5 separate regions of the Homo sapiens genome follow, and all the other regions are reported to be linked to region 3. The links are microRNA targets in miRTarBase. Many come from high-throughput screens and were not tested one by one. Region 3 holds a microRNA gene; each other region holds the end of a gene's coding sequence.

Region 1 (6,696 bases), not on the chromosome of region 3:
GGCTTATAATACATGATTCTCATAGGAATGTAGGAAGGCAGTGACTCTCAGTCATTTGCTCATGTAACTTCCTGTATTTTTGATGTGCATTAGGTCAACCTCTGTTGGGGGCTCTATAGCAATATCTATCCAAACTACACACTTATCGATCCAAACTTCCACTTCTAGGAATTTATCTGATAGATAAGCTTGCATTTGTATGAGATGATCCATGTGAAAGGTTTCTGTTTTTCGTTGTGTGTGTGTCTTTTTTTTTTTTAGACAAAGTCTCACTCTATTGCCCAGGCTTGAGTGCAGTGGTGCAATCTCAGCTCGCTGCAGCCTCTGCCTCCCAGGTTCAAGTGATCCTCCTGCCTCAATCTCCCAAGTAGCTGAGATTACAAGCATGTGCCACCACACCCAGCTAATTTTTGTATTTTTAGTAGAGACAAGGTTTTACCATGTTGGCCAGGCTGGTCTCAAACTCCTGACCTCAAGTGATCCACCCGCCTCAGCCTCCTAAAGTGCTGGGATTACAGGCGTGAGCCACTGCAACCGGCCTGTAAAAGGTTTCTTATAGCACTGATTACTATTGCACAAGGTTAGAAACTGTGCAGATGTTCACTGCCAGGGAACTTCCATACAAGGGAATACTGCACAGTTTGTAAAAGGAAAAAGAAGCAATTCTCTCTATACTAATATGGAAAGATCTCCAAGATACACTTTACACAGAAAAAGCAAGATGCAGAGGGACGTGTATAGAATGCTATTTTTAGTTTAAACAAGAGGAAAAATAAGAATATATTTTAATTTACTTTTTTTTAGTTCTCAATTGGGTTAGTTTACATTTTTAAACTTCAACAAGCAATTTTGTAACACTTACTGTACATCAGGCACTTTATAAGTATTAATTCAATTCTTCTAACCTCAGGAAATAGGTATTATCATTACCCTCATTTTACATTAGTAGATTAGGCCACTACAAACAGAGAGGTTATGTAAGTAGTCCAACATCACACTGCTAGTCACATGGGGGAGCCAGCATTGAAACCCATACCCTCTGACTCCACAGGTTATGTTCCTAAGCATCATATTAAGTGGACTAAGAAGTTAATACATGGAGGGAGGGAGGACAGGGTGAATGAGAGAGTTGCGTGACTTTATGTGTATGTAGTTTTGAACGATGTAAATGTGTTACCTATTGAAAAAATATTTAGAAAAAATGTGTATGACTTTGCTCAAGTTACTTTCCATGTGAGAGGCAGACATCTCAAGATAAGTAATAGTAGTAGCTTGTAGTGAGGGTTTACCAAAGTCTTATCTATAGTCCTCTGAGACTTTAGGGAGAGAATCCTTATTTAACCTCATGAGATAGATTCCCCACCCCCGACCTGAGCTGAGCAGCTAAAGCTTGGGGTGCTGCAGGCTGGGGAGGCTGAGCGCACCAGCGCCCATGACCTACAGCTCTCCCCTTCGCAGACCCCTTCTTCAGGAGCGCCCAGCCCTGGATCGCAGCCCTGGCAGGGACCCTGCCTATCTTGCTGCTGCTTCTCGCCGGAGCCAGTTACTTCTTGTGGAGACAACAGAAGGAAATAACTGCTCTGTCCAGTGAGATAGAAAGTGAGCAAGAGATGAAAGAAATGGGATATGCTGCAACAGAGCGGGAAATAAGCCTAAGAGGTATCCAACGCAAGCAGAGAATCTAAGCTCTTGGCTTGCATGCCCCAGCCTGAAAACCTCACCTCTCTCCCCTACCCTGGCACTGCATCATGTTTAAGGTTTATTTCCCGAAACACCAACCTCACCCATAACAGTTCATCTTTTTTTTTTTTTTTTTTTTTTTTTGGTTATTTTCCAGAGAGCCTCCAGGAGGAACTCAGTAAGTTACCATTCCCCCAGAGATCCAGACATGTCTTCCTATCCTCGCTTTGAGCACCTTGATGACTCTTCCCTGTTCATTCCATTGCAGAGAGGAAAAAAATCCAGTACTTGACTCGTGAGTGGCTTTGACATTTTCTCTGAATTCAAATCTGTTACTCTCTCTCTGCTTCATTATTTTCCAGCCCATAAGTCATAGCCCAGGGTTGAAAAGTGGTCTTGGATCCCTTTACCCAGAAAAAGAAAACAAGTGTGGCTCTTTGGAGAAACCACCCAGTGCTTTTTCTCTCTAGAAAAAAAAAAAAAAAAAAAAGAGGTCTTCAATCTCTTTGTACTAGGGGCTACAGACCCTTAAGCTCTAAAAAGCACTGAGGAATATCCAGGGGTACACTTCAAAAGGAAGAGGGAAGAGAAGGATGAGGTGCATTTTCTATGGCAGGAAACTTACTTGTTGTTTCCCATAATCTAGAGGCTGTTGAAAGGAAAACAAGAATGGAAGATTTAAGAAATAAGAAAATCAGAAAAGAGAGAGGGAGGGAGAAAAGTGTGTCTAATAAAGAGGAGTAGCTACAGTGGCTCAGTTGGTACAGATAGATCATAACTGCTTTCAAAAACTAGTCCCTGAAATTGCTCATTAAATTTCCCAAATTCTTTTTAGAGCAAGGTACGAAATGATACAGATTGAGAAGGATGAATCTTGTACTCCTAGGCATACACATATAGACATGGTGACACCTATGCCCAGGTACACATTCAAAACAGATGAGCTGGACCCCATTGGGAAGGAACTCTCACAGTGCCTGCCCTGCCACTAGCGTTCAACCGATGTTCCCAGACTTGATATTAAGAAGAGGTGAAGAAAGAATTGTACCTGAAGATGGAGACCATGGGGAAGGGTGGGATGGTAAAAAAAAAAAAAAAAAAAAAAAAAAAAAAAAAAAAAAAGACTAGATGGATGCAAAAAGAAGGGGAAGGGGCCAACACAGAAAAGGCAGAGTTCTGGTGACACCTCTACCTTTCTTTCATTGTAGGTGGAGAGGAGTCTTCGTCCGATACCAATAAGTCAGCCTGATGCTCTGTAAGTTTGCTGGGTCACATGCCCTGAATATTTCAACTTTTTCTCCACTGTGACCCGTGGATGTTCTCAGCTGGATTAATTAGATCTAATCTAAAGACTCAATTTCTGTGTGGTGGGGGTTCACCTCCGCTTTTCTGGAGCCTCTGAGAAACTCCTGATCCTGCACACCCCCTTGTAAAGCCTGGCCATGCATCCTGCACCCCCCATGACACAGGGAGCCAAGCCTGACATTTTTGAGAAGGTGCCACCTCTGATCCATCAGAGCTGTAGAGGAGGGAAGCTGGACCCTGGAAGAGACTCTAAAGAAAAGGAGAGAAAACATGTAGTGAGAGGAGAATGGAGTGGGAAAAGTACAAAAATACTGACCTTTTTCTTATCTGTGTCTCCTTCCTTTCAGAATGGAAAAATGGCCCTCTTCAAGCCTGGTGAGTAAATCACTGCATGTTCCCTGGACCAACAACCTGAGGGACTATATTCCTTTTTCCTTTTTTCTTCTCCAACTCTTGTGATTTGGAGCAGAAAAGTTCCCTTGACTTCCTTCGTGGGTAGGAAGACGCATAAAGGGTGGAGGTGAAGGGAAGGAGACACACACTGAGTAATACTGCAGGGAGAGTGAGGATGGAAATGCCAAGGAGAGGAGGTGATGCCTGCCCAAAGAACTTTGTCCTTCCCAGGCTTCTCATGCCACCTACTGCCTGTATCTCCTCAAAGGATTTAATGCTTCCAAGCTTTGGCCTCCACATTTTTAGATGATGATTGCAATCTGTTTTTCATGGGGGTTGAGGTGAAGACTGAAGGAATAATGAACATGCTTGGCAGAAACCTAGCAAGAAATAGATGGTGAGCTCAAACTGGGTAGTTGGACAAGGTTTCCAGAAAGAAGGGTTAAGGGAAAGCAACAAGGAAAAGTGCAGTGCCCCCATGGTTCCCAACAGTGGGGAGCTGTCTCCACCCCTAGCCTGGGAGGGCTAAAAAGGGGAGGCAATTACTGGAACCCAGAGAAAGAGGTAGCTTAACGAGGGAGCTTCCTGAGAAGAGTCCTCGGGCCTTGTTAGAGCACCACCAGCTGCTGCTGGCAGGGAGGAAGCAGGAAATTAAACGGTGTGTATCTCCTTTCTTTCTCCTTCTAATCTTCTATCAGGGCCTCCCATTGGCCAAACACAGCAGCAAACCAGAGGACAAGGGAGCCCAGTGGCACTGTCCATAGAGGACAGATTCCTGGGGTCCAGAAGAGGGTGGAGAAAGCTGAAGGCTGGAGAGTGAATCTAGGGCATATAAGGCCCCACACAGAGCCCAGCACAGAGACGGCCTTGCAGCTATCAGGAAGATGAGGAGCTTCCTTCATGGCCTGCTGTGGGCTGAGTAAATAATATGATTGCCTTCTACAGCGCTAGAGATTCATATGTTTATCCCCATTTTTCAGGTGAGGAAATGCTTCAGATGAGGCTCCACCTTGTTAAATAAATTGGATGTATGGAAAAATAGACTGCAGAAAAGGGGAACTCATTTAGCTCACGAGTGGTCGAGTGAAGATTGAAAATTAACCTCTGAGGGCCAGCACAGCAGCTCATGCCTGTAATCCTAGCACTTTGGAAGGCTGAGGAGGGCGGATCACAAGGTCAGGAGATCAAGACCATCCTGGCTAACACGGTGAAACCCCGTCTCTACTAAAAATACAAAAAATAAAAAATTAGCCGGGCATGGTGACGGGCACCTGTAGTCCCAGCTACTCGGGAGGCTGAGGCAGGAGAATGGCATGAACCCGGAAGGCAGAGCTTGCAGTGAGCCGAGATCACGCCACTGCACTCCAGCCTGGGAGACAGAGCGAGACTCTGTCTCAAGAAAAAAAAAAAAAAAAAAAAAGAAAAGAAAATTAACCTCTGAGTATAAAGCATCAGTGGGCAGAATCAATGTGGGGAGGGAAACAACAAAAATGTAGAAAGAGGATCCTTGTTGCTTCTTGGGGCCGCATCAGGGTATTGGGTTAGGCAGATACTGACCTTACTTTCATTTCCCCTCTGGTCACTAGACCCCTGGGGCTTTCACCAATGACATTGATGAGAGAATCACATTCAGGGCAGGCTAGGGACACGGGGTTCTGGAAGGACCTCCTCAGCATGGCCCAAGCCTTGCATGCTGTGGCTCTTAAATCCAGGAAAAATGGCTGACCCCATGGACACCTCCTCAAACTCTCTGCAGCAGATGTAATTCTGTATCCAGACATGGCAAATGCCATCCTCCTTGTTTCTGAGGACCAGAGGAGTGTACAGCGTGCTGAGGAGCCCCATGACCTACCAGACAACCCTGAGAGATTTGAATGGCGTTACTGTGTGCTTGGCTGTGAAAGCTTCATGTCAGAGAGACACTACTGGGAGGTGGAAGTGGGGGACAGAAAAGAGTGGCATATTGGGGTATGTAGTAAGAACGTGGAGAGGAAAAAAGTTTGGGTCAAAATGACACCGGAGAACGGATACTGGACTATGGGCCTGACTGATGGGAATAAGTATCGGGCTCTCACTGAGCCCAGAACCAACCTGAAACTTCCTGAGCCTCCTAGGAAAGTGGGGGTCATCCTGGACTATGAGACTGGACATATCTCGTTCTACAATGCCACGGATGGATCTCATATCTACACATTTCTGCACGCCTCTTCCTCTGAGCCTCTGTATCCTGTATTCAGAATTTTGACCTTGGAGCCCACTGCCCTGACCGTTTGCCCAATACCAAAAGTAGAGAGTTCCCCCGATCCCGACCTAGTGCCTGATCATTCCCTGGAGATACCACTGACCCCAGGCTTAGCTAATGAAAGTGGGGAGCCTCAGGCTGAAGTAACATCTCTGCTTCTCCCTGCCCAGCCTGGAGCTAAGGGTCTCACCCTCCACAACAGCCAGTCAGAACCATAAAGCTACAGGCACACACTGAAGCACTTTACTGATATTCATTCAATTATTCCATAGGACAGTTGTTTGAGTTTGGTGCCACCTTATTGGCCCCTTTATACAGATAAGGAAACTGGGGTGTAGAAAAGTGTATTGACTTTACAAAGCAGACAGGAATAGTGAACAACAGAGCTGGGATCTGAACAACAATGACTAACATTAATGGAGAATTTAAAACGTTCTGAGTGCTGTGTTATGAGCTTTGGTGGGTGTCACTCCTTTAATCCTCACAACACCCTGTCAGGTAGTCTCATTTGGCAAGTATGGAAGCAGAGGCAGGGCAACATTAAGTAGCTTACATAACTCACACGGTAATTTGTGCAGTTGGGAGATGTTCAGCTTCAGTCCCTGGCCAATTGCCCGTTCTTTTCCAGCCTGATTTTTCCTGCATGGGAAGAGCCCACATGTAGCCCTGAGGTTCCCTTCCCAGGACAGCTCCAGGATCGAGATCACTGTGAGTGGTTGTGGAGTTAAGACCCCTATGGACTCCTTCCCAGCTGATTATCAGAGCCTTAGACCCAGCACTCCTTGGATTGGCTCTGCAGAGTGTCTTGGTTGAGAGAATAACGTTGCAGTTCCCACAGGGCATGTGACTTTGAAAGAGACTAGAGGCCACACTCAGTTAATAATGGGGCACAGATGTGTTCCCACCCAACAAATGTGATAAGTGATCGTGCAGCCAGAGCCAGCCTTCCTTCAGTCAAGGTTTCCAGGCAGAGCAAATACCCTAGAGATTCTCTGTAATATTGGTAATTTGGATGAAGGAAGCTAGAAGAATTACAGGGATGTTTTTAATCCCACTATGGACTCAGTCTCCTGGAA
Region 2 (6,696 bases), not on the chromosome of region 3:
GTTTGGAATTGTTATAATATCATTTAAAAGAACATGTGCCCTAGATTTTTTTAACTTTTTTTGCTCACTTCTCAAAGCATGTTGGGAACACCATCATTTTCTGAGGCTGAATTTGGTCTGGGTTTCTGAGGATGCCTGAAATGGCATCGCTGAAAATAAATCACCCCAATCACATATGTGCTTTTAATTTTGTCCACATTGCATTTCAGAAAATTGTGAGTAACGTGAACATAAACTTCTAACTAAGAAAAAGGGTAACTGATGATCTTGCTTTCTTAACAAATATACTGTCTTTTTAATCATAGTTCTATTCTAGACCTATATATAAATAAGCTGTATTCCACTGTAATCATACTGTGATGTTTGGCTTTATTCAAAAACTATGTATTGTAAGTATCATTCCTGTGACTACAGACTTCATATTTATCATTTTAGTGACTGCATAATATTCCACTGAGAGGATATACTCCTTATGGCCCTGTTAGTGGACATTTGTTTTATTTGTTTTTTATTTTAAAATTCTATGAACCACTTTGTATTTTACTTCACCCCTTACCCCTCCTTCCTCCTTTTGGCTCTCTTCTTAAGAGTATTTCAGGCAGAACCTTGTTTATCTTTTTCAAGACTGTCTCGCTCTGTCATCCAGGCTGGAGTGCAGGGGCGTGATCTCAGCTCACTGCAGCCTCCGCCTCCCAGGTTCAAGCGATTCTCCTATCTCAGCCTCCCGAGTAGCTGGGATTACAGGTGCCTACCACCTCACCCAGCTAATTTTTGTATTTTTAGTAAAGATGGGGTTTCACCATGTCGGTCAGGCTGGTCTCGAACTCCTGACCTCAAGTGATCCACCCGCCTTGGCCACCCAAATTGCTGAGATTACAGGCGTGAGCCACCAAACATTTTTATACCAACTATATCTATTTGATTTAGACATACTTATCTAGGTTGAAAAGTAATCACAGAAATTAAATTAGCAGGAATCGTAGAAAGAAGCAGGGCCTGTGGTAAAAAGCATTAATGATGGAGCAGACCTGACTGGTTTTCATTGTCTTTCCTGAAGCTATCTCTTTGATCCAGTTCAAGTGCCCTCTCCTGGCTATGTCAATGAAGTCAACAGCTGCAAGCTAGATGAAGACGACACTGATAAATTAAAAGGCAAATGGAGCAGTGAAGTCTTGGTGCAGAAAAATGACCCTCAGAGGCAGGGCTCAAAGAAGACTGAGAGCAGCAGCAGGACAGCTGATCCATGGGAGCCCTGCTGGCCTCACCAAGGGCCGCTCCCACAGGGGGACGCTGGAGGGGAACACCATGCCTGCGGTGTCAACGGCATCGGCCCTGCTGCCACTCCACAGCCCACTGGGAATTCCAGCCCCACCCAGGATGACAGGGGCTCCTGGGCCAGTACTGCAAATACTGTTCCCCCAACTCAACCCTTCCTGGAAGGAGGGGGCACCAGGAAACAGGACTGTGTGCTGCTGGCCTCAGAAGGGACCCAAGTCATGAGAAATGGAGACTCCAGAGCTCCTTCTGAGGCAGAAAGTTTTGCCTTGGAAGTACAAGACCATGTCTTCCAGATACCAGCCCCAGATTACCTTCAGCATTGGGGCCCAGCTGGAGACAACGTTGATCATAATGAAAAGGACTGTGTTTTCAAGAACCATACTGAGGATGAATCCCTAGAGGGAATTCAGCCCCCAGTGGGGGAGCATGGTTTGAATACGCCCTTCTCTGTGAGGAGAAGCTGGGATTCATTGAATGAGGATGTGGAAACAGAAGTTCTAAGCATCTGCTTTAATGAGAAGGGTCCTGTTCATGCCATGCCTGTGGTTGACTCAGGAAACAGGCAGGAGGATACCCATGGCTCCGATGGAGATGGGGATGGGGAGATTGTGGACGAGGATGCAGCGGTGGCGGAGGCCCTTGCAGCTTTAGAAGCTGCTACTGCAGGAGAAGATTTGGATGAGACTGATTAGGGGAGGGGATTTGCACAGGGAGGTAAGCTGGTGTCATGCTGAGCATGCAGATGCATTTGCTCCCTGGATGCATAGCAGGTGATTCTGCCAGCATGCACCAGTGCAGCCTTACCAGTTGTTTACATCCAGCATCTGTTCTGATTGTCAGCATCTGTCCCATGCTGCTTGTCACATATCTGGAGTTTCACTCTGTGTAGATGAGCTGTCATTCAGGACACTAGGAGAAAAATCTGAGTGGGTCATTGTGCCCATATCCACAGAAAATGCAGAAGTTGAACAGCTTGCTTGACAACCCTCAAACATCTTTGAGCACCTGGTACAGATGTTTATGAGAATACTCTAAGATCTCAACCCTTGATCCCAAAGGCACACAATCACAGAGCATTCCTTTTGACTGTAAACTGTTTACCTTGCTTTTGAGAGCCAAACATTGTACCCAACCTGGAAAAAGTAACTACCCCAATTAAAGTGCCTCATGTGTCCCCAGAGCATGGCTTAACTTCAGGGACAATCACCCAGGGAACTAATAACTAACCAGTTGTTCAACAGCGGGTTAAGCTCAGCAGTTTTCACAGTAGAGCAGAAGTCCCCAGGAAACAAAGGGTTAGTCATTAGCTGAGATGTTGATTTTAAAACACCTTGACCTTAACTTTTTTACATTATTACTTTTAAATCTCCTTTGGGATTGGGGAGGCTGGCCAAAATAAGTCTTAAAACTGCTTATGTCATATTTGGATTTTAAGTTCATGACATTCGGAACAGCAAAGCCATATATGCAATGTTTTTATGCCATTAAATGTCTGATTCCAATTAAAATATAACAACGTATGTGTCTTTCTAGAAGTCTTAACTCAAAGGTGGTTCTAATTTTCTCAGAATATCAGTGACCCTGGATGTTACTTTCAATGTAAAGAACTAATCTAGATGGCCGGGCGTGGTGGCTCATGCCTGTAATCCCAGCACTTTGGGAGGCCGAGGCGGGTGGATCACAAGGTCAGGAGTTCAAGATCAGCCTGGCCAACATAGTGAAACCCTGTCTCTACTAAAAATACAAAAAATTATCCGGGCACGGTGGCGGGCGCCTGTAATCCCAGCTACTTGGGAGGCTGAGGCAAGGAGAATCACTTGAACCTGGGAGGTGGAGGTTGCAGTGAGCTGAGATCGTGCCACTGCACTCCAGCCTGGGTGACAGTGCAAGACTCCATCTCAAAAAAAAAAAAAAAAAAAAGAGCTAAGCTAGGCACAGTGGCTCATGTCTGTAATCTGAGCACTTTGGAAGGCTGAGGTGAGAGGATTGCCAGGGCCAGGAATTCGAGACCAACCTGGGCAATTTAGCGAGACCCCATCTCTATGAAAAAAAAAAAAAAAAAAAGAGCTAGACTACAAAATTATACTCAAGGAAGGGACCGAGCTGGTTTGCAGAGCCATAGCTTTGGCTTTCTCTCTGTCAAACTTGATGCCATAACTAAATGTCCTGATCTTACCTCAAAGATGAACAAGCCCTCTCTGGATTTCAGCCTTCTAATTCACTGAAACAAGGACAACCATTCTAACGTAACTCAATGGAGAATTTAAAGGCATTAAGGATGCTCAAAACTATCTAGAAAAAAATAAACATGGAAGATGCTTTAGTTTGGTGTTTTGTAACACAGAATTGAAATCTGACTGAACTTCATTTGATTTCCAGCTTTGCCATGTGACCTTGGACAAGTTATGTATCCCTTTACCCATCTGTAAAGTGAGAAGAATAATTGTATGTGCTTGTAAAGGTTAAATGAGATGATGTAAGTGTTTAGCACAGTGCTTGGCACACTAGGCACTCAAAAATGATGTTTTACTAGTTGAAAACAATTCCTTTAACAAACATTTTTACATCCCCACAACTGAAAACTCTAAAACTGGGAAGTATGTATAATGTCATTATTTGACTTTGGCAATTATTTAGTATAAAACATGATTTCTGAGCCTTCCAGCACCTTTAAGGACGGCACCCTTACAAATGCTTAATGAGCCTATGGGTTTGTTTGGTACTGTAATGACAAGCCATCGCAAGTGACCTCTATATACAGGGTCACTCAGAGCCCTTAAAAAGATAAAGTCTTGGCATTGTTAATTGCATTAGAGGTATGTCTCCTTTTGTATTTAGTACACCAAATACTTAATATTTCAGAATGCTTATTCCTTCAATGATTTCCTAAGTGTATCAGTTGAGATTATGTTCAGTTGTATGGGACGAGTGTTTTATACAAATAGAGGCTTATTTACCTCTTATGTAAAAGAAGTCTGGAGTTAGTGATCCAGGGTGGTAGAGAATGTATCACTGGCCCGTGTATCAATGACCCACATATCAATGACCCACGTATCAATGACCCGCATATGAATGACCCATGCTGCTTCAATCATTTTGGTTTCCTTCTCAAGATCACTTTGTAGTCCATAATGGCTGCTGTGGCTTCAGTCATTACATTTGCATTCCATGTTGGAAAAAGAATAAAGGAATAAAAACCCCACTCACTCTCTATTAAGGACCCCACAGAAGTATAATTCATCCCTTCCACATTACTCTCTTTGGTCAAAATCTGGTCACTTGGCCACATCTAGCTGCAAGAGAGACTAGGAAATCGTCTTGCTAGTGGTGTGCGTGGCTTTGCCAAATAAACTCAGAATGCAGTTACTAAGAAGGGGAAATGGACAATGAGTTTCGAGGCGGTCAGTTTACAGTCTCTGCCACAGGAGGTCTCAAAACCCAAAAGCCTGGGATACAGCTGGTTTCAAAAGATTGGAAGATCGTGTGTACATTCAGTGTGACACCAAAGGGGCTTCCACCTTTGGTCCGGGGGAAGGAGGACTGGACAGCTACCGCTGCTCCAACTTCCCATTGATAACTCCAAACCGGACGAAAAGAAGAAATTCAGACAAAGAAGGGGTAGGGTAAGGTATCAGGGCAGACAAGTCTCTTTCTCTTACCCAGACACACACTTTCGCATTTATATATGTATATAATTTTACATCTTAGAACAGCTGCAGAGTTCACCATAACTGACAGCTCTGTAGTTTTAAAGATTCTCTTTTATGAATAACTGCTTTGAAAAGGTCGACAGATGGCCAATACTTTCAAGAGTTCTTTAAAAGTAATTCTGGCCCCTTTCATCTTTACTCCAGTATCCAGGATCCCCCAAAGGAAATGAAAGTAAAAAATCTTTAGGTTGAAAAGTAATTCCAGCTTTTAGCCTTATCTACCAGGTTGTCTAACAGTGAGCTGTCTGAGCACGCTTATGTGTGTAGTGTCTTCTTTCTGCAGCCTAGTGCCACCTCTTGTCAGAAAAGTGATGTTGAAAATAGCCAACCTTTTCAAACATTGTGGACAATATGAAAGCACAATGCACTCTGATTGGAAGGCACTAACTGTGATTAGGGGCAGACTTCACAGTTCCCCATGAACCTTAGGCAATTGCATCACGTGGATATTTACCATGTTAAATCCTGATTTTGAATTAAGATTATTTTATGTATATATTACATATAGGTTTCTTGAGCTAAGAAGTTAGATTTAACTTTTTACTGGGGGAAAATGAACTATCATATAAATATGAAATTAAATTTTTTCCCCTCATTGCCAAAGCAGATGTAGTGAATAGTTATAACTGGAAAAACCAGATACCCAAAAAAACGAAGAGAATTTTAGGTTTCTTACATAGCACATGCCCATCTGTCCATGCTCAGTAAGTGCTGGCCATTCGTCATTTTCCTCCCTCTGCCCCGCTCTGTCTCTCTGATTCTCTTCTCTTCCTACCTCTCCCATCCGTACCTCCAAGCAGGAGGCCTTAGAAAGAATGAATGAGACACCAGATGCAAGTGCAAGTGCAAAGATCTCCTGACTTCCCTGGTTTGGTCGTCTGTGTGCAACCATGCAGCAGATAGAGCACAGTCACTACTGCAGCACAGGATATAGCCTCCTTTCCTGGACTTGGACTTAACTCTTCATCAAGGGCACTGCTTTTCACACAACCAGGCTTTATGACGAAAACGTAGAAATTAATTGCTTTCTGGTCTTGTTTCATTTTTTTTCTCTAGATTAAACCTCATGCATTTTTAAATCCTCTATTTTGGAGTTGGTGACAAACACAGACAAGCTGACATCTGTTTTTCATGGTAAATCCTTTCCCTGTTAACTAATAGAACAATAAGTCATTCATTTATAGATTTACTAAATTTGTAAGTTTCTCATATGTATCAGGTTATACAAACCACACCTAAGTGGTCTGCTAACTTCTGAAGCACTCCCAGCCACTTTAAGAAACATTTTATGCAAGTCAATGTGTTGATCGTAGATGATGCTTACCTGCACATTTAGTCACTTGGAGTCAACTATTAGCAATTTTTTTCAACTGAAATATCTGTACTAAAAAAATGCGTTTGGCCTGAGATCTAAGTTAGTGTACGGCACAAGGGGGGAACTCAATACATATTTGTTGATTGAAAGAATACATAAAAGAAGTCTGGAGTTAGTGATCTTTTCCCGGTCTGGTTGGGGAGATATCATGCAGGTAGCCAGGATTGTGCTGGATTGTGACATGGTGTAATAAAGGTATACATGGTGTAATAAAGGATGTGGGAGCACAAATCCATAGGAATTTGAGAGTTTAGGAATTGTATTTATTATTCAGGCCCTTCACTCTCAGACTACCCTGCTCTATTTGAATAATGAGGCTTGTGGTGGTCTGTG
Region 3 (6,696 bases):
TAGGTTAAGGAAATAATTTAAGAAAAAGTTACACACAATAAGATGTTTAGCTCAGTGTTATTGAAGAAAGAGACTTACAAACAGCCTCGCTGCCCAGCAATGAGGTGTGAATCAGTGTAGCACAGCACCTGCATGTTATACAGTTGTAATTATTATGAAAGATAATTAAAATCATGAACGTTTACTGAGTGTTTAGTTTATTTAGTTAGCACTGCTCCCAGTTGATTGTCTCAGTTCACCCTCACAATAATCCTAAGGGGTAGGCGCTATTACTCTCCCCATTCTATAAATGGAGAAACTGAGGCACAGAAGGCTCAGCCTCCTGCCCAGGGTCCACAGGCCAGGATTCTAACCCAGGTGGTCCGGCTCCAGCATCCTTGATCATTTCAAAAGTTTCATAGCAATGTGGAGAACATTCAAGACCCAGTGTTGGTTAAAAAGCAAAATAGGATTGGGATGCCAAGGCGGGCAGATCACGAGGTCAGGAGTTTGAGACTAGCCTGGCCAACATGGTGAAACCCCGTCTCTACTAAAAATACAAAAAATTAGCCAGGCATGGTGGCATGTGCCTGTAATCCCAGCTACTCGGGGAGGCTGAGGCAGGAGAATCGCTTGAACCCAGGAGGCAGAGGTTGCAGTGAGCTGAGACTGCGTCACTGCACTCCAGCTTGGGCAACAGTGAGATTTCATCTCAAAAAAAAAAAAAAAAAAAAAAAAGCAGAATAGGAAGTGATATGTATACTACGACTGAATGGAAAACAGTAAGTGTGTGGACAAGGATGGCAGAATTAAATGCAAAAATTAACATCTTTTGTGATAAAGTTCTCTCTCATGCTCTTTTATTTTACCATGTCTTTTCAATTTACTTAAATATGTTTAATTCCCTGCTCACATCCTTGTGCTGCCAGGGCGTAAGGCCAGAGAAGCAGCTCCCAGTGCAGGCTGATTGTCCTCTAAGAAAAAGGGGCAGTTGGCTCAGTTGCTCAGAGCACAGAGTCCAGAGCCAGGCTGCTTGGGTTCAAATCCAAGCTTTCCATGGAGCTGCTAGGGTTCTATTTCAATGCAATCCACATTGCATTGGGTAACTGGGTGGATGGTGGCTTCACCCCTCATAAGTATGTGACCTTGCCCAACTTCTCTGAGCCTCAGTTCCCTCACCTGTGAAATAGGGAATAATAATAGAACTGTTAGGAGGAGTCGGTGAGGATTTGCTAAAGCACTTAGAACAGAGCCTATCACAAAGTGTGTGCATATTAAACAAATAAACAGCTGGGACAAAAACTATCCCCTTAAGGGTGGTCTGCCAGCTCCTCTTTCTGACACTGCATGAAATTTTAACTGCAGCCCTACAAAGACCATACCTTGAATATTGTTTTCTAAGCAAAGGCTCAGTGAGAGATTCAGCTCAGCAGCGGGGCAGGGTGGGGACTGGGGGCGACAATGTGCAGGATCTCCCATCACAGCACATACTCCTTCCAAGGGTCTGCCTGGGGAGGGAATGTCTAATAATTCCTAGGAAATGGCCCCAAACAGAACCAGGAGCAGCATCCCAACCTGTTCAGAAAAGAATAAAAAGCAGGGTCTTCAGCAACAGCTGGTTATAAACACATATCAATTTGCAATGAACATATTTTAATAAATACTCTACCAACCCAACTCCAGAGATGACTCACTGCCCCCACCTCCCCTGACTGGTCACCCAGGTGTCAGGACTTCTGAGTTCTCACTTTCCATTTCCCTCTCCACACCCTCATCCCCCAGCAGGGGTTGTCATTGTCGCCCCCATACCCAGCCCTACAGAGCCTCTGACTCTGGCCCTGTGAGGTTATCTTAAAGACTCTAGGTCTAGGATTTTTATAAAATGACCATATCGCTCAACAGTCCCCAAAAGTTGAGAGCAGCTCCTGGTGCCTTGGGTCCCTGACAGCACAAGGAGCTGAGACAGGGAATTAAATATTCTTAAGTAGACTAAAAAGATATTGTAAGATGAAGAGAGAGACCACCTTAAGCAAAAAGACCTGCATTTTCGCATTTTAACTCTGCACTCCTTGTCCGCACACACACTGGGTTCGGTTCAGTTTCAATGCACATTTAACCCATGGCCACCTTGCTTTCCTGCTTGCAGGTGGGGGCCCCAGTGAGGGCCCTGGTGGCTGGCCGTGGGAGCAAGTCAGTGCAGCATTTGCTCAGCTTGTGCTTGTGAGCACCATGTCCTTCCAAGGCACTTGGCGAAAGAGATTCTCCTCCACAGACACACAGATCCTGCCTTTCACCTGTGCCTATGGCCTCGTCCTTCAGGTCCCCATGATGCACCAAACGACCGAGGTCAACTACGGTGAGCTCTGCCCCTGCTGGTTTGTCTAAAGGGAGAGGAAGCCTGGGCCTGAGGGCAGGAGAGAGGAGGCCAGGTCCCTGCTCCTAAGGGATCGGGATGTGTTTCCGCAGGGTCCATCTGCTGGACTGGGCATGCATGGCGGAAGGAAAGACTAAGGTGCCCGGAGACTTTAGAGAGGAGTGTGGGACAGTGTGCTCTGACAGGACAGTGAGGACACAGATGTGGAAGAGAAACTCAGTTTCATGCCTGACATTTCCTTCTGCACTAGTAGAGTTTGGACCAAACTGCCACCCTGGCAGGCACAATAGGCCGGGATTGAATGGCTGCTCCTTTAAGATCGGGTACAGTAGTACCCTGTACCCTTATCCATGATTTTGCTTTTTTGAGGTTTCAGTTATCCGCATCAGAAAATATTAAATGGAAAATTTCACAAATAATTCTCAAGTTTTAAACTGCACGCCCTTCTGAATAGTGTGGTGAAATTTCCTGACGTCCTTCTCTGTTCCACCTGAGATATGAACCATCCCTTTGTCCAGCATCCCCAGGCTGTCTACAGTATGCCCGTTGGTCACTTAGTAGCCATCTCAGTCATCAGATCGAGAAAACATAGTATATGCAGGGCTCGTTACCATCCACAGGTTCAGGCCTCTACTGGGGTTCTTGGAGCATATCTGCCAAGGATAAGGGGGCACTACTCTATGTGGTTCTGCATGTGCCATCGTCCCCCCCCCCATACCCAGTCCTAGAGAACCTCTAACTCTGGTCCTGTGAGGGTATCTTAAAGACTCTAGGTCTAGGATTTTTATAAAATGACCATATCGCCCAACAGTCTTTGGCCTGAAACCGCCTCCTGAGGGTGAGGTGGATGCTCGGTTTTATTGTTTCCAGTCCTCTGAGCCAGCCTCTCTCAGGGTCCGACACTGGTTCATTCTCCTGGCTCCTGGGACAGAGCTGACCTCTGATCCACTGTACCCTCAGGTCAGTTCCAGGACACTGCAGGCCATCAGGTGGGGGTGCTGGAGCTTCCTTACCTGGGAAGTGCAGTGAGTCTGTTCCTGGTGCTGCCCCGTGACAAAGACACCCCCCTGAGCCACATCGAGCCACACCTCACAGCCAGCACCATCCACCTCTGGACCACCAGCCTGAGGAGAGCCAGGATGGATGTGTTCCTGCCCAGGTGAGCAGCTGAGTCCCCCTCACAGGTGCTGTGCAGCCAGCAGTCAGAAGAGCGTGGATTTGCACACAGGTGGTCTGCCTCCAGGGTCTGTGCTTAGCCACTGGGATGACTTGTTTAATATGTATCCCCAGAAGTTAGACCAAGAGGAAGTGACCCTAGAGTTTGAGTTCATTTCAGAGCCACTGCTGGCTAGCTCACAGCACAGACTGAAATGAACTAACTTCCCAGAGTCTTTCCAAGACAAGATATTCTGCCTTCACTGGGCTGGAATGGAGCCCCCCAGGACCCCCTGATCCAGCCCTAGGCTGGACCAGTTTTTGGAAAGGAAATGCTCGTGGTTCCCTTGTAGGAACGTTGCCCAAATCTTATCCCATCCTAAGAGTATACAACTGTCATTTTTCCAAAACCAAAGAGATAAGATGACTTACGTAATTGAGCAAGTACAGATAAAATTCTGATCAGACGCCAAATTAAGGCATAAAATTTTGACACTTTAAGTCTCTGTGCAGAAGGTTCTCATTCTTTCTAAATGGAGGTGAACTCTCCTTTAAGAAGACCCAATAGGTACAAATACAAATCAAAAAGTGAAGTGGTGGCATTCTATGTTGCTTTTTCAAAACAAAATCTATTAGCAAAACTCATAACTTTACAAAAAGACTCCTCTTAGGGCTTCTTTAAATGATGAGCTTCTGTGATGTATTTGAAATCAGAGTAAATTTATAACCATTTTTTGACCAGCATTAAGCAAGGAATGTTGTCCAGTAGCCACTAGATGCCTTGGCCTCTCTCCACTGCCTGGGCTTCCAGTAGGCAAAGGCAAAGTCCTTGGCAGTACTCCCTTGAGGAGTTAAAAGTAAATCTATGCACTAGAAGGAAAAAATACAAAGAGAGACCCAGTAAGTTAAGGGCCAAGGTCTAAAGTGAGATCTGGCATAACCCAGGGCAAAAGGTGCACTTAACTCTAAGGTAAAGTGTATCTCTCAAAACTAAATATTTGGACCCCAAACCAAAACCCAAATACTGGATATTTCAACAGATCTCTCAGGGAGGGAGCAGAAGCAACCCTAATCTTCCTATTATATTTGAGAGAAACTCAGCAAGGGAAGGAAGAGCAGCGTTCCGTGTCAAAAGTAGAGAGAAAAAGGAGGCTGGTGCGAGAATTCGCCACAACCTTTTTGGGTTTAAGAGACAGATGGTGGGACTCATCCTCGAGCAGTTCTTCCCTGGAAGAGACCCCGGGGAAATTCCCAGCTCCACTGAGAACTCTCCACCGTCCTGATTCTGCTTTTAGGAGTCTCAAACCCTCAAGCAGTTTGAAAACTGAAAAACACTGGCAGGCAGGGAAGGCAAGGCAAGGCAGAAATCTTAGTAACACAACTATTAGTTAGCACTTAACCTCATTCTGATAATTTTTTTTAAATCTCCTTAAGACTACCAAGACTGCTGTCCAAGGAGGATAGAGGTTTTTAGGAAAATGAAGTTATTTCACAAGTAAAACTAACCAAGTTTTTTTTGTTTGTTTTTAAGCTAGCTTTAAATCCTTTGGGGAACAAAACAAAAAAAGTAAAAACTCTCTTAGGTCTAGATTTAGGTATAAACTTTGGATCACGGTAGACACAAAGTCAGCTTTTAGGCAGGGATTTACCTCTCATTCTCTCAAATCACTCATTCTTCTTTTAGTATGACTTGCTCTGCAGTCAGCAGGCATTTTTCGTTTAACAAGAGCAAAAAAATTTTGCACACTGTGGGTAGCAATGCAAAATTGTGTGACTATGAGATGTGCTTTCAGGTTAGACATCACCAAGCAGTGCACTAGTAGATTCTGGACGAATTATGGTGTCTAGCTTCCAAAGTAACCTTTTATTTATAAATAAATAAAAAAAGTGCATAGGGACTGTTAATCTTCATGAGGGACGCTTAGCATACTAAAGGAATAATCAAGAAAACCAAGAATGTGTTAAGGGTTGTTTATAACCACAATCATATGATGTCCCACAAGAAAGACTAATAATGCCAAATATGTATGTAATGAATAAAACATTTGATTATTAGGTCAACATAGAAGGCTGAGCATGAGCATGTTTTGATATTAGATATAATATATATCTTCTTAAAATCCACCAGATCCCACATATTCAAAATGAGTTTTGCCCTTCCTCCCAGGAGCTGCTGATTATCATGGTGTGTGGTTTATGCTTTTCTAGGAGTGTTTCTTTTTTAAAAAATCAAGATATAATTCACATATTATAAAATTCACCATTTTAAAGTACACAATTCAGAGGTTTTCAGTATGTTCACAAAGTTGTGCAACCATCACTACTAATTCCAGAACCTTTTCATCACCTCAAAAAGAAACCCCATATCCATTAGCAGTCACTCCCAGCTCCCCTCCCCACCTCCCAGCAACCTCTGATCTATTTGCTCTCAATAGATTTGCCTATTCGAGAATTTCATGTAAGTGAAATTATACAATTACATATTGTACAATTATACAATATGTGGCCTTTTGTGTCTGGCTTCTTTGCATAATATTTTCAAGGTTCATAGTAGCATGAATCAATACTATCTTCCTTTTTATGACTGAATAATATTCCATTGTATTGATATAGTACATTTTGTTTACCTATTCATCAATTTATAGATATTTGAGTGCCTAGACACATTTTGGCTTGTTTTAACTTCTTGGCCACCAGAAACAATCAAGTGCACATTTTTTTGTGTATATATATTTTCAATTATCTTGGATATACACCTAAGAATGCAATTACTAGGTCATGTGGTAACCCTACATTTTACATTTTGAAGAACTATCAAACTGTTTTCCAAGTCACTGCACCATTTTACATTCCTACCAGTAATGTGTGTGGAATCCAGTTTCTCCACATCCTTGTCAACACTTGTTAATGACCATCTTTTTATTTTAGCCATTCTAGTTGGTGTGAAGTAGTATCTCATTGTGGACTTCATTTGCATTTCCCTAATGACTAATGAGGTAGAGCATCTTTTCATGTACTTGGAGAAATGTCTTTTTTGTAGAAATGTCTATTTCAGAGGTTTTTCCCATATTTAAATTGGTTGTCTTTTTATTATTGAGTTGTAATAGTTCTTTATTCTGGATACTAGTACCTTAACAGATATATGATTTGTAAATACTTTGTCATTCTGTGGTTTTTCTTTTCACTTC
Region 4 (6,696 bases), not on the chromosome of region 3:
ATGGGGCTTCACCATGTTGGCCAGGGTGGTCTCGAACTCCTGGCTTCAGGTGATCCACCCGCCTTGGCCTCTCAAAGTGTTGGGATTACAGGTGTGAGCCACCATGCCTGGCCCAGTGTTCTTTTCATGAAAATAAAATTTCTTTTTTTATATAGCATATGAGCTCATAACTGGCACTGTATAGCACCTGAGCATGTTTTGATTTGGTCTTTCTTGTTGAGGGGCCTTGTTACGTTATACCCTGGTGTCTAGACTTTGGCCCAAAACCTTTGAGATGGAGAGCCGGTGTCTGTGGTACTGTTTGCAATCTCTGGTTCTACACTCAGGGTTCATTCATGTAGATGCAAATACAGATGGTATCATAACTTCCAACCTCTCTGTTCCTCATCACAGCTGTTCAGTCTCGCTTGAAGACAGATTACGGAAGGACGAGGCCAAATCCAGATTTTGTGGTGTGAAAATTTACCCTGGTGTGTTATCACTACCAGGGGATCTGACCTCAGCCAGGAGCAGTGAGAGCCTCCTCTCCCCAGCCATGCTGAGCGCTGGCCTAGGACTGCTGATGCTGGTGGCAGTGGTTGAATTTCTCATCGGTTTAATTGGAAATGGAAGCCTGGTGGTCTGGAGTTTTAGAGAATGGATCAGAAAATTCAACTGGTCCTCATATAACCTCATTATCCTGGGCCTGGCTGGCTGCCGATTTCTCCTGCAGTGGCTGATCATTTTGGACTTAAGCTTGTTTCCACTTTTCCAGAGCAGCCGTTGGCTTCGCTATCTTAGTATCTTCTGGGTCCTGGTAAGCCAGGCCAGCTTATGGTTTGCCACCTTCCTCAGTGTCTTCTATTGCAAGAAGATCACGACCTTCGATCGCCCGGCCTACTTGTGGCTGAAGCAGAGGGCCTATAACCTGAGTCTCTGGTGCCTTCTGGGCTACTTTATAATCAATTTGTTACTTACAGTCCAAATTGGCTTAACATTCTATCATCCTCCCCAAGGAAACAGCAGCATTCGGTATCCCTTTGAAAGCTGGCAGTACCTGTATGCATTTCAGCTCAATTCAGGAAGTTATTTGCCTTTAGTGGTGTTTCTTGTTTCCTCTGGGATGCTGATTGTCTCTTTGTATACACACCACAAGAAGATGAAGGTCCATTCAGCTGGTAGGAGGGATGTCCGGGCCAAGGCTCACATCACTGCGCTGAAGTCCTTGGGCTGCTTCCTCTTACTTCACCTGGTTTATATCATGGCCAGCCCCTTCTCCATCACCTCCAAGACTTATCCTCCTGATCTCACCAGTGTCTTCATCTGGGAGACACTCATGGCAGCCTATCCTTCTCTTCATTCTCTCATATTGATCATGGGGATTCCTAGGGTGAAGCAGACTTGTCAGAAGATCCTGTGGAAGACAGTGTGTGCTCGGAGATGCTGGGGCCCATGATCTGGGAAGAAAAGTGTGGTCAGGACACTCTTGGGACGCTCTTTTGATAGCTCTCTATAAGGGAGCTGCTTTCCATGTCTTTTAAGATTTTCCTTCTTTTACACCAATGTAATGAATGAGCAACAGAAAATACGGATCAAAACCCAATACTATGTCTCTTTTGGCAATGCAAAGTATATTTTTTTAATGTACCACAGAAATCAAGGCTAGGGCTTCATGTTTGGTAAAAGAGGTATTATATTCTCTCTACATATAGCAAATAATTCATATATAAATCGTGTTTTTCCTATTATAAAAAGCAGAGATTAGGAACAATTCTGTCTACATATAGCAAAAATTCATATATAAATTGTGTTTTTCCTAGTATAGAAAACAGAGATTAGGAACAATTATAGTGATCATTAATTTTTATGAAATTTTACCTATACATTAATGTTAGTCATTTTAGATATGCTTTTTAAAAAGTATCAAATAATTTCCCCATTTCTCTGCTGTAATGTATCTAATTATCTAACTGAAAAACAAAACAAAACATCTTTATATTTCTGGAAGTTTCTTTGAGCCCTAGCCTTGGCTTTCAGAATAAAAATCAGGCTCACGCCTGTAATCCCAGCGCTTTGGGAGGCTGAGGCGGGCGGATCACGAGGTCAAGAGATCAAGACCAAATTAGCCGGGCGCGGTGGCGGGCGCCTGTAGTCCCAGCTACTCGGGAGGCTGAGGCAGGAGAATGGCGTGAACCCGGGAAGCGGAGCTTGCAGTGAGCCGAGATTGCGCCACTGCAGTCCGCAGTCCGGCCTGGGCGACAGAGCGGGACTCCGTCTCAAAAAAAAAAAAAAAAAGAGATCAAGACCATCCTGGCTAACATGATTAAACCCCATCTCTACTAAAAATACAAAAAATTAGCCTGGTGTGTTGGCGGGCACCTGTAGTCCCAGCTACTCGGGAGGCTGAGGCGGGAGAATGGCATGAACCCAGGAGGTGGAGATGGCAGTGAGCCGAGACCATGCCACTGCACTCCAGCCTGGGCAACAGAGCGAGATGCCGTCTCAAAAAAAAAAAAAAAAGCAGAATAAAAGTCAGTTGGATGCCATGATCTGTATTAAGCTCCAAGGCCCAGGAACTGAAGTGGGGCAATATGAGAATGAGGGGCACTTGATTCTGCTTAAAAAAAATAGACTGCCTTTGAAGAGGTCACGCTGTCTGCTCTTCAGTCATTTAGCCATTTTGCCTGTCTACTGTGGCCTCACCACAGCCTACAGTCAGAGTTCTAGTGTGCCAGGTCTTTGAGTTGGAGGGAGATCATTTAGAATGCCAGATCCATGGCAGTAGGAACTGTGTCTGTTTTTATTTTCTCCCACGTCTCTGTGACTAGAACACTGCCTATTGCATAATAAACGCTTAATAAATATTTTGTAAATGACTGAATAGCTGTGCTAACTGGTTTTACAATGCCTCCTTTGTATTGTAGGTAGAGAAACTGATGCCCAGAGAGGGGCAGTGGCCTGCCCTGGGTTTCATAGAGAGCCTGTGGCAGTGCTGGGACTAGAGCTGTTTCTTGACTCCTGGTGCAGGGCTCTTTCCTTTACAACATGCTACTTTCCTAATGTCCTTCCCTCCTTGGAACCCCATGCCTCTTTCTACAGACCCTTCTACACAACTTATTCTCTTCCTTCTTTCTAGCCTTCTTTGTTTCAGTTCCAGGGGGATCTGAAATCCAAAGGACAACACTTGGCATTCTTAAATATTTTTTTTTCACTTCCTATGGATCACACTAATCTACTTTCATTAATCTATTCTCTCAAACATATCTTTTTCTTACCTGAATCTGAGAATTGAGGTACATGCTAGGCACATGTGGATATTAGTCATCACACAGGGGGAGATTGGTTCCACTGTCACTGTGAGTTGTGTGAGGTCAAGTACCATATTTTATGTCCTGGGAAGGATCATATTCATTCTTTTTAAATAGAAAGGTGCTTCTGCTTGGTTATATTTTTGTTAGTAGGATGAATTTTCATTATACCATTTCTATTTTTTTTACAGATGTCCTTTGTGACCAATTGTTGTAATAGTGACAATAGTATTTAACATTTGTATTGGGCTTTACATTTTACCAGACAATCTCATATATAGTCCATTATCTCATTTGATTTTAATAGCAACTCTATGCAGTAACCAATTTTATCCCCAATTCACAGGTGACAAAACTCAGGCTGGAGTGATGGTTTGCCCAGGATCATGAACTTGTAAATAATGCAGATGGAGCAGACCCAAATTTTTTGACTCCGAGTCTTGTGCTCTTTCCAGTAAATCCTAAGTATCTCATTGTTCATACTTGTAAGACTTCAAACTAGGATTAGCCTGTGGAACTTCCCTCAAGTTTATGAGTATTTTTACACACATGCAATAAGCAACTAATCTTTCAAATTTGGTATTGATGGGATGCCTGGGTGCTAAGATCCAAAATCACAACAGATCAAAGTTTATGATCTGCTTTTCTTAGTGACAAGGTATGGAATCAACCTAAGTGTCCATCAACACATGAACAGATAAGGAAAATGTAGTGTATGCATGTATGTGTATCTGTTTCATTTTCTACTTTTCTGTACTGTTCAAATTGTTTTTAGCCATGCTCAAATATCACATTTGAACATTTGAACAGATAAAAAAATGTAGTATACATATGTATGTGTATATATGTATACACACACACAATGGAATATTATTCAGCTTTAAAAAAGAAGGAAATCTTGTCATTTGAAAAAATGTGGATGAACCAGGAGGACCATTATGCTAACTGAAATAAGCCACATACAGAAAGACAAATACTGTAAGATCTCACAGATGTGTGGAATTTCAAAAAGCCAAACTCACAGAAGCAGAGTAGGATGGTGGTTGCCAGGGCCTGGGACGTGGGGGAAATAGGGAGATGTTTGGTGTCTGTTAGGAAGAATGAATAAGCTCTGGAGAGCTAATGTACAGCATAGTGACTATAGTTAATAGAACCGTATTATATACTTGAAATTTGTGAAGAGAGTAGATGTTAAATGTTTTCACTAACAACAACAACAAAGATAATTGTGAGGTGGTGGATATATTAACTTGATTGTGGTACTCATTTCACAGTGTATACATATGTCAAAACATCATGTTGCATACTGTAGATATATACCATTTTTGTCAATCATTCCTCAATAAAGCAGGAAAAATTATTGCATTTTCCACATCACCTTTTGGGATTTGATTTCCTTCTTTTTCTGTACACAATTTACCTTATGATGCGTATGAGACTGCTTTGTGTTTTAGCAAAGAAAACAAATGGGAAGGCAAATATATACTCTTGAATTGATTCCTATGTAATTGAATCTTTTATAATTTGCATTCTTAGAGTTGCAGCTGGATCCATGTGTGCGTGTGTGTGTGTGTGTGTGTGTGTGTGTAGATGTTAATGGCCTTACATTTAATTATGTGATATGCTCTGTGGTGGTGTAGCCGAGAGGAGACGTGAAATGTTAAAAATGTGATATGTGAGCATGGCTAAAAACGATTTGAACAGGACAGAAAGGTAGAAAATGAACAGCAACGTTTTTCCCTCCCACCTTCTATTATTAGTCCCACTGCCTGGATATAATGGTATCTTATCACTTGTGTTAGTTCTTTTAGTGGTTATTTTTTACGACTCTGAATGGTAAGATTTTGGCTCTCTTACTTGTTTTATCAGCTTTAAACTGTAGCCTTTGAGTTCCATTCATCAAGGTTTGGGGATTATCTCATTTTGCCCCTAATCCATTTTCCTCTCCTAAATTGATTAGTTTTATTTTGTTGTTCTAACAGTCATTACTTTTACAATTGTAAGTAATATATTTTCTACACTGCTTTTTTGAACCATGCCTTATGACAGTATCCACAGAGTCCCGATTATGTAGGAGGAAGAAATTAGTGCTTCACCAGTCCTGCACTTCTCCCATATCCCAACTCCTGTCACCTGTGGTATCAGTTATAAACAACTTCATATGACTTCAGGAGAAAGTACACTTATCAAAAGGAAATTGGCTAGATTATAGAACCAGGGAGAAGGCTGGAGAGTCAACCTCAGAATGGGAACCAAGAGGGGTTAAATAAACAAGAACACAATCAAGTCACACTACAGGGACTGATGCTGGCACCACCTCTCCTGTTCAGCTGTTAACATTGTGTTCTTGACACTGCCACTGCCTCTGAGACTGTGTCTCTTCGAGCCATCCTGGGTGGGATTTTTGGCTGGCTGATTCTAGATCACAGGCCTAACCTAGCTGACAGGCCCTGGGGTGAGGAAAAGCCTGGTTTCCCTTTGGCTTCTGAAATATGCACTTTTAAATTAGGTGAAATAAATTATTCCACCATTGAATTAAGCAGCAGAATGGGTACAGCTCCTGGTGTGGAATTGATGCACTGGAAGGCCAGCTCTAGAACTCTCGCAGGAGATATGGCAAAGTAATAAAGTGATGGGAAATTTAAAAGCAAAGCAATATGGCACACAGAAATAAAAGGACACTCATAGGTGTGATTGGAGCCCCAGAAGGAGATGGAAAAAATAAGCACAAGGAATGAAATATTTGAAGAATTAATGACCAAGAATTGCATTAACGATGAAAAAAGACTAAAAGGGCTCAAGGGGTGTCAAAGAAGACAGATAAAGTGGGAGGAATTCGTCACACTTAAACACATTGTAGAGATTTAAGAATATCGAAGACAGGCAATTTTACAAAATTTTGAAAGAACAGATCAAGAATCAGATTGACATTTCTCAGGAGAATACAGAACAAGATTTTTCATGACATTTTATTCTAGTAAATATTTTGTTATTTTCAAGTAACACCAAGAAGAAAAGTTTAGAAATATTTTTCTGGCTAGGAACATATTTTATATTAATTATAAATGGAGAGTTAATTCTAAAAATGTCAGTGAAGGCTCAGTGGTTGATTATCATAAGGTTAGTGAGCAAATTCTGAAATATTTGAACAATCAAAGAAAATCTTGAAACTAAAGGATTTGGAGAGATTGTGATGTCAATACTCACAAATGAATTAAAGGAGTCAATGTGGCATAGAATTGGAGATGACTCTGGAGGGAAAAAAAGTAGCACAAATAACTGCCAGTGCATCAGAATTTGTTAGAATGCAGTGAAGAAAACAGGAAAAATTAAGCATTTCAATTGAATACAAAAGAAACAAACAGGGGGCTGGGTGCGGTGGCTCACGCCTGTAATCCCAGCACTTTGG
Region 5 (5,211 bases), not on the chromosome of region 3:
CGAGAAGGGTGATGAGGAAGTCTGTGAGCCAGCTGTGTCCCCTCCTCAGGCCACACCCACCTCTCTCCAGCAAACACCCCCTTGTTCTACCCCTCCAGCTACCACCAACTTTCCTGCACCTCCTACCCGGGCCAGGTTGTCCAGGCCAGACAGTGGCATACTGGGTGAGGACTCCACCAGTCTGGTGCTGGAGGATTTTGAGGAGGTGTCAGGATCAGAATCGTTTATGGATTATAGGAGTGATGGGGAGTACATGAGGTGAAGGGAGAACTAACATGGGCACAGCCACCGGCTCAGGATCCTATGTAAGTACTCAGAAGGCAGCCGCTGCACATTCCTGTCAATGGCTGGCCTTAACTCAGCTTGTTAGGGCAAAAAAAATCATTCGTGGAACATTTCCTCTTAGAGGACTCACAGAAAGTGGCATTAACCCAACTTTGAAGATAGCAACTCACTCCGGGTGCATGCAAGGCATGAAGGGATTTTAAAAACTCATTCGTTATTAACTTGATTGCATTTTAGAAAGTGGGCTGGTTGATACGTTGAGCAGGAAGGTAGATTGCTGTTTTTTTGCAAGTTTATTCTAATAGCTGAGGCCACAGCTGGGGCTTAAGGGGCTTTTATTTGTGGCATGCATTTTAAAAGAAAAAGAATGTGGCAGGGTTCTAATTCTGATTGCTTGTCTTTCCTGATACAGAGCCCGTCCTGGAAAGCAGTTGTTATTTAGCCTAGACTGGGCAGGCATCTCTGTTAAAACTGCATATTTTAAAGAGGATTGTGATTATGAGCTAATAGCTCGGGGAGGAAAATGTCCTCATCTTGCTTTCCTCTCACCCAGTGGAGAATGTGTTTGTTGATCACACAGACAGAGGACTAGATACTGCTATGATTAAATGTTACTATGATCAGATAGGTATATGGCAGCCTGGCTTTCCCCAGTCACCCACACCTGTGGGAGGTAGGATGTGCATAAATCCTGGAGGGCCTAACAGTGCGTGCAGGATTTCCCTCACAGAATTTCCCTCCCAGAGAGTCTACAAGAAAGGCTGTGCCCAGTGGTTCTGGGAAATTGCTCTCATGTTTCCCTGGCTGCCCTCATAATACTGTGATGTTTTTCTCTGTAACTCCACCCAACCATGATGTAGGCCTGAATTTCCTGAGGAAAATCCCATTGTTCCCAATTTGGAAGGCGCCTCCCATGGTTCTTCAGAAAGCACCAATAAATTACCTGAGAAACTAGCCCAGTGAGGAAGGCCTCCAGAGTACATGAAATGAATGAGTGAATGTTTGTCTATTTTGAAAAACAGGTTATATAAATGATGAAAGAGGCCATAGAGATGACTGATGAAAGGTTAGAGATTTAGTTTTGTAGATATGGAATTTACAATCTCCTGTGTTACCAGCATCCTTAGAACCATAGTTCAGCTCATTCTGAGGTAATTCCAAGGATCAATCTAACACCCCAGATCACTTTGTTGAGTTCCCCGAAGTGTGCATTGACAACTCTGATCACTCCTTTCCCTCTGTGCAGCTGTTCGCCTTCCTACTCGTTCATCCTGCATCCACGCATGCTCCTTATGTCCTATGGATCCCTCTTGGTCCAACTTGCCCATCCACCTATACACTCTCTCTTCGACTCACAGCAGCTCTCTGTTTTCTCATGTTGTTCTTCCTGGTTTTCTTCTCTTTTCTTGGTTCTATTTTTCTCTTCTTTCTTCTCCAATTTCTTCTCAGTCCTTGATTGCCTCAGTTTGATGTTCTGTTCTTTTTTCCTTTTCTTTCTTGAGACAGGGTCTCACTCTGTCACTCAGGATGGAGTGCAGTGGCATGATGTCGGCTCACTGCAATCTCTACCTCCAAAAGCTCAAGCGATCCTCCCATCCCAGCCTCCCAAGTAACAGGGATTACAGGCACATGTCGCTGTGCCTGGATAATGTTTAATTTTTAAATTTTTTTGTAGAGACAAACTCTCCCCATGTTGCCCAGGTTGTTCTCGAACTCCTGGGCTCAAATAATCCTCCTGCCTTGGTCTCCCGAAGTGTTAGGATTACAGGCATGAGCCACCATGCCTGGCCAGTTTGCTGCTCTTAAGTGTCCATTTTCTATGTCTTCTCAGTTCATTTCTCCCTCTTCACTTGTCTCTTGTTTTCTTCCATTTTATTGTTCATATATTTATCTCTCCTATTACCTCCTTTTTTCTTTTTCCCACCTTTTTTGCCTTGCTGTATCTATTCTTCCTCCTAAACACCCTGTACCCCCATCTTATTAGTTTTTAATCCTAACTCTTCCAAAGATCAGTACTTTTCCCTCTGCCTATAAAGAAAACCATTCAAGTGAAGGTGTAAAATCCCCAGCTTTAGGAATGTTTTCCAAACATCAGGAGGCAGGCAGCATGGTAAATGAGAAAGAGGCCAGGACTGGGAGTCCAAAGTCCTGGCTTCTATGTCTGGCTTTGCTACTAATCAAATATGTGACTTTTTGCAAACCATACCTCACTAAACCTTACTTTCTTCATTTGAGCGTGTTGGACCAGCTGTCCCCAGGAACCCCCTTGGATTGATCTGAGAAGGCAAGGATAAGTTTTTCAAAGGAAGAAAAGAGGAGTAGTCAGTCCGCAGTACAGTAGACACAAGCCCCAGGACATCTGAGTGTCTTTCAGCAAGAACTCTCTGTGATATTTCACTACAATTTCTCTGGCACCTTGGGACTCTCCTCAGCCCTTGTGGTGGTGGGTCTTGTTTAACTAGCAGTTCCCTCCATTCTATGCCTGTGAAGAATCTATCACCTACCATGTGATTACAGTGCAGATTTTTTTTTCCTTTTCCTTTTCTTTTTCTTTCTTTTTTTTTTTTTTTTTGTTTGAGACGGAGTCTCGCTTTGTCACCCAGGCTGCAGCGCAGTGGCGCGATCTCGGCTCACTGCAAGCTCCGCCTCCCGGGTTCACCGCCATTCTCCTGCCTCAGCCTCCCGAGTAGCTGGGACTATAGGCGCCCGCCACCGTGCCTGGCTAATTTTTTCTATTTTTAGTAGAGACAGGGTTTCACCGTGTTAGCCAGGATGGTCTCCATCTCCTGACGTGGTGATCCGCCCGCCTCGGGCTCCCAAAGTGCTGGGATTACGGGCGTGAGCCACTGCGCCCGGCCTACAGTGCGGATATTTTATGAGAGAGGAGATCACAACTCAGTCCCCAAGCCCTCAACCCTTAATACATACTATCGTATGAAATGCCTCTTTCCAAATTCAGCCTTTTCTAAAACTCAAGATGAGAAAACTGCTGATGAGGCTCACTTTCTAAAATACCGGAATTTGCAATATAGGGAGAATAGTTTTTCATGTTTCTTTGTTTAAGCAATAGAGAGAAAGGAAACTTATGTCGTTTACTTTTCAGGCCATAGAGGTTTTCAGAACAACTTGAAAACATGATCAAATTAGCCAAACTTCTGATAGTTTTCAATGTAGTCTGTGATCATGGGATAATTTAGCCTCAGTTCTTTTTCTGAAATTGTGTTTTGAATGTTTGATTTGACTTATTTACCATCAAACTTGCTATAAGGTTATTACTCTAATGAATAAGCATATTCCCTTAATTGGGAGCAATTTACTATTATTTCTTTCATAAAGTAGGGCACCATTCACCATCTATTTCCTGGCTCTTTAGTTATCAAAATGTTAAGCTCATTGCTATTCATCCCGGCACAGCACTTATATGAGAGGCATGAAGCTGGCTGAATTCTGCATCATTAGGAATGACACAGCCTCATCACATTGACACCAGTGCTTGTCTCTCACACCAATCCAAATTAAGACCAACTGAAAATAGTCAGAGTTTCCTCTGGAGCTCCTTTTTGAAGAGACATATGTTTTTTAGTCTGGTGGTACCCAAAATTGAACAAAAAATGGGTGCTGCTTCTCTTAATAGGCAAAACTATGCTGCAGGATAATGTATTCATGCAGGGTCTTCCAGCCAGACCCCAAATCATCCCTCCCTTCACTAGAATTTTTCTGTTTAATTCGATGGCCACTCTCCACAGGGATCCATTCTGTGTCTTATTACAGGAGATGCTCAATGAATGAGGGACTTATCTTCTAGAAATGCAGCTCCGAGGTAGTCTGTTGAGTGAAATAATGAATCCATTATCACAAAATAAATTGAAAGCTGTCTGACATTTGGACAATTTTTATTTTGTTTCACATTGTTCTGAAAACTATACTGTTTCTTTTCTCCCTATTATTTAAATAAGCAAATGATGAACAGATTACAAAATTGAGGACACTCGAGGTAAGGGAAGGAGCCCCTCGACAGGAGGATCAGGACATAGTACCAAGGGCAAGAGAAACGATTCAATAAACACTATTTACTATATATTTTAGGCATGGTTCTAGGTAATCACATGATAAGTAGTTGAAAGAACTGAAAATGTTTTATCTGCAAGAAAAGGGCAAGTGTAATATCTTCAAATTTTAGAAAGAATGTAAATTAGAATTTGACTTAATTTGGTGTAGTTCTTGTGGGCAGAAATTGAATTGAATAGGCTGAAAGTTATAAGAAGGATTTTAGCTCAGTATTGATACTGGATTGCTCATGGGTGGTGAGAGTTACTCATCACTGGAAGAGTTCAAGCAGGGGCCATAAGAAATCTCAGGGATTTTATAAGGTGATTCATGCTCTGGGAAAAGGATGCCTTGGATTATTGTGTCAGGGTAACTTCTAACTCTAGGATTCTGTGTTTCTAAGATCTGGACTCTAGTCTTGCCACTCACCTGCCATCAAGAACATGTTCCTCATCTGCAGGACAGGACCAAGATGGCTCTGTCTACCTTACCGGGTTGCTGTGAGGCGTGATTGTGATAAAATACATAAAGGCAGTTTTTAAGCTCTGAAGCACTAGTTAAATGTGTAGCGTATTTTAAGATTCTGTTGTATGTACAATTGTTTAGCAGTCTCTCTCTCTTTCTTTCTCTTTCTTTTATCAGAGATAGATGATTTTCCCTCTTATTTCCACCAGTTTGGCTTTTCAGGGAAGGTGGCAGCTGGCAGAATCCCCTGACAACAAAAGGTACAGCAAAAAGTGGAGGCCTAAAGAAAACATGTGCTAGCTCTTTAGCCCCTGAATAGCTAAGTCACATGTCAGCCTGCTCTCCTTCATCTGTTTGGGAGGAGGCAGATTAGAGTCACACTGTCATCATGCTCTTCCCCTCAGAAGCAGCTGT

The links. The annotated mature microRNA hsa-miR-5693 reads GCAGUGGCUCUGAAAUGAACUC and lies in region 3 at 3,677-3,698, opposite strand. An mRNA with a match to its seed (bases 2 to 7 or 8) in the 3' UTR can be bound and repressed. Matches are read on the target gene's strand: a 7mer-m8 pairs with bases 2 to 8, a 7mer-A1 pairs with bases 2 to 7 and ends in A, and an 8mer does both.
Region 1: the mRNA of BTN3A2 is a reported target of hsa-miR-5693. Seed matches in the 3' UTR shown: 7mer-m8 at 4,732-4,738 and 7mer-A1 at 5,716-5,722.
Region 2: the mRNA of PGCKA1 is a reported target of hsa-miR-5693. Seed matches in the 3' UTR shown: 7mer-m8 at 3,136-3,142.
Region 4: miRTarBase lists TAS2R5 as a target of hsa-miR-5693. The part of its 3' UTR that is shown has no 7-base or 8-base seed match.
Region 5: the mRNA of POPDC2 is a reported target of hsa-miR-5693. The part of its 3' UTR that is shown has no 7-base or 8-base seed match.

Annotation. Positions count from the first base shown.
Region 1 is chr6:26,371,439-26,378,134 of GRCh38, forward strand. It overlaps BTN3A2 (butyrophilin subfamily 3 member A2), which reads left to right. Exons shown (of 11, transcript NM_007047.5): 6 at 1,459-1,659; 7 at 1,838-1,858; 8 at 1,949-1,975; 9 at 2,889-2,935; 10 at 3,333-3,360; 11 at 4,359-6,696. The coding sequence ends at 2,929. Among named protein-coding and RNA genes, the nearest start is that of BTN2A2, 8.3 kb to the right of the region's middle.
Region 2 is chr4:37,589,031-37,595,726 of GRCh38, forward strand. It overlaps PGCKA1 (PDCD10 and GCKIII kinases associated 1), which reads left to right. Exons shown (of 4, transcript NM_001104629.2): 4 at 1,058-4,480. The coding sequence ends at 1,970. It also overlaps a transcript of RELL1 not described here. Among named protein-coding and RNA genes, the nearest start is that of RELL1, 94 kb to the right of the region's middle. RefSeq lists enhancers at 806-1,306, 1,307-1,807.
Region 3 is chr13:51,344,900-51,351,595 of GRCh38, forward strand. It overlaps MIR5693 (microRNA 5693), which reads right to left and starts at 3,740; the gene lies at 3,668-3,740. It overlaps SERPINE3 (serpin family E member 3), which reads left to right. Exons shown (of 10, transcript NM_001386375.1): 5 at 2,126-2,335; 6 at 3,314-3,512. It also overlaps a transcript of INTS6 not described here.
Region 4 is chr7:141,789,827-141,796,522 of GRCh38, forward strand. It overlaps TAS2R5 (taste 2 receptor member 5), which reads left to right and starts at 391. Exons shown (of 1, transcript NM_018980.3): 1 at 391-1,541. The coding sequence starts at 536. The coding sequence ends at 1,435.
Region 5 is chr3:119,643,213-119,648,423 of GRCh38, reverse strand. POPDC2 (popeye domain cAMP effector 2) reads left to right here. Exons shown (of 4, transcript NM_001369919.2): 3 at 1-305. The coding sequence ends at 262. Among named protein-coding and RNA genes, the nearest start is that of POPDC2, 15 kb to the left of the region's middle.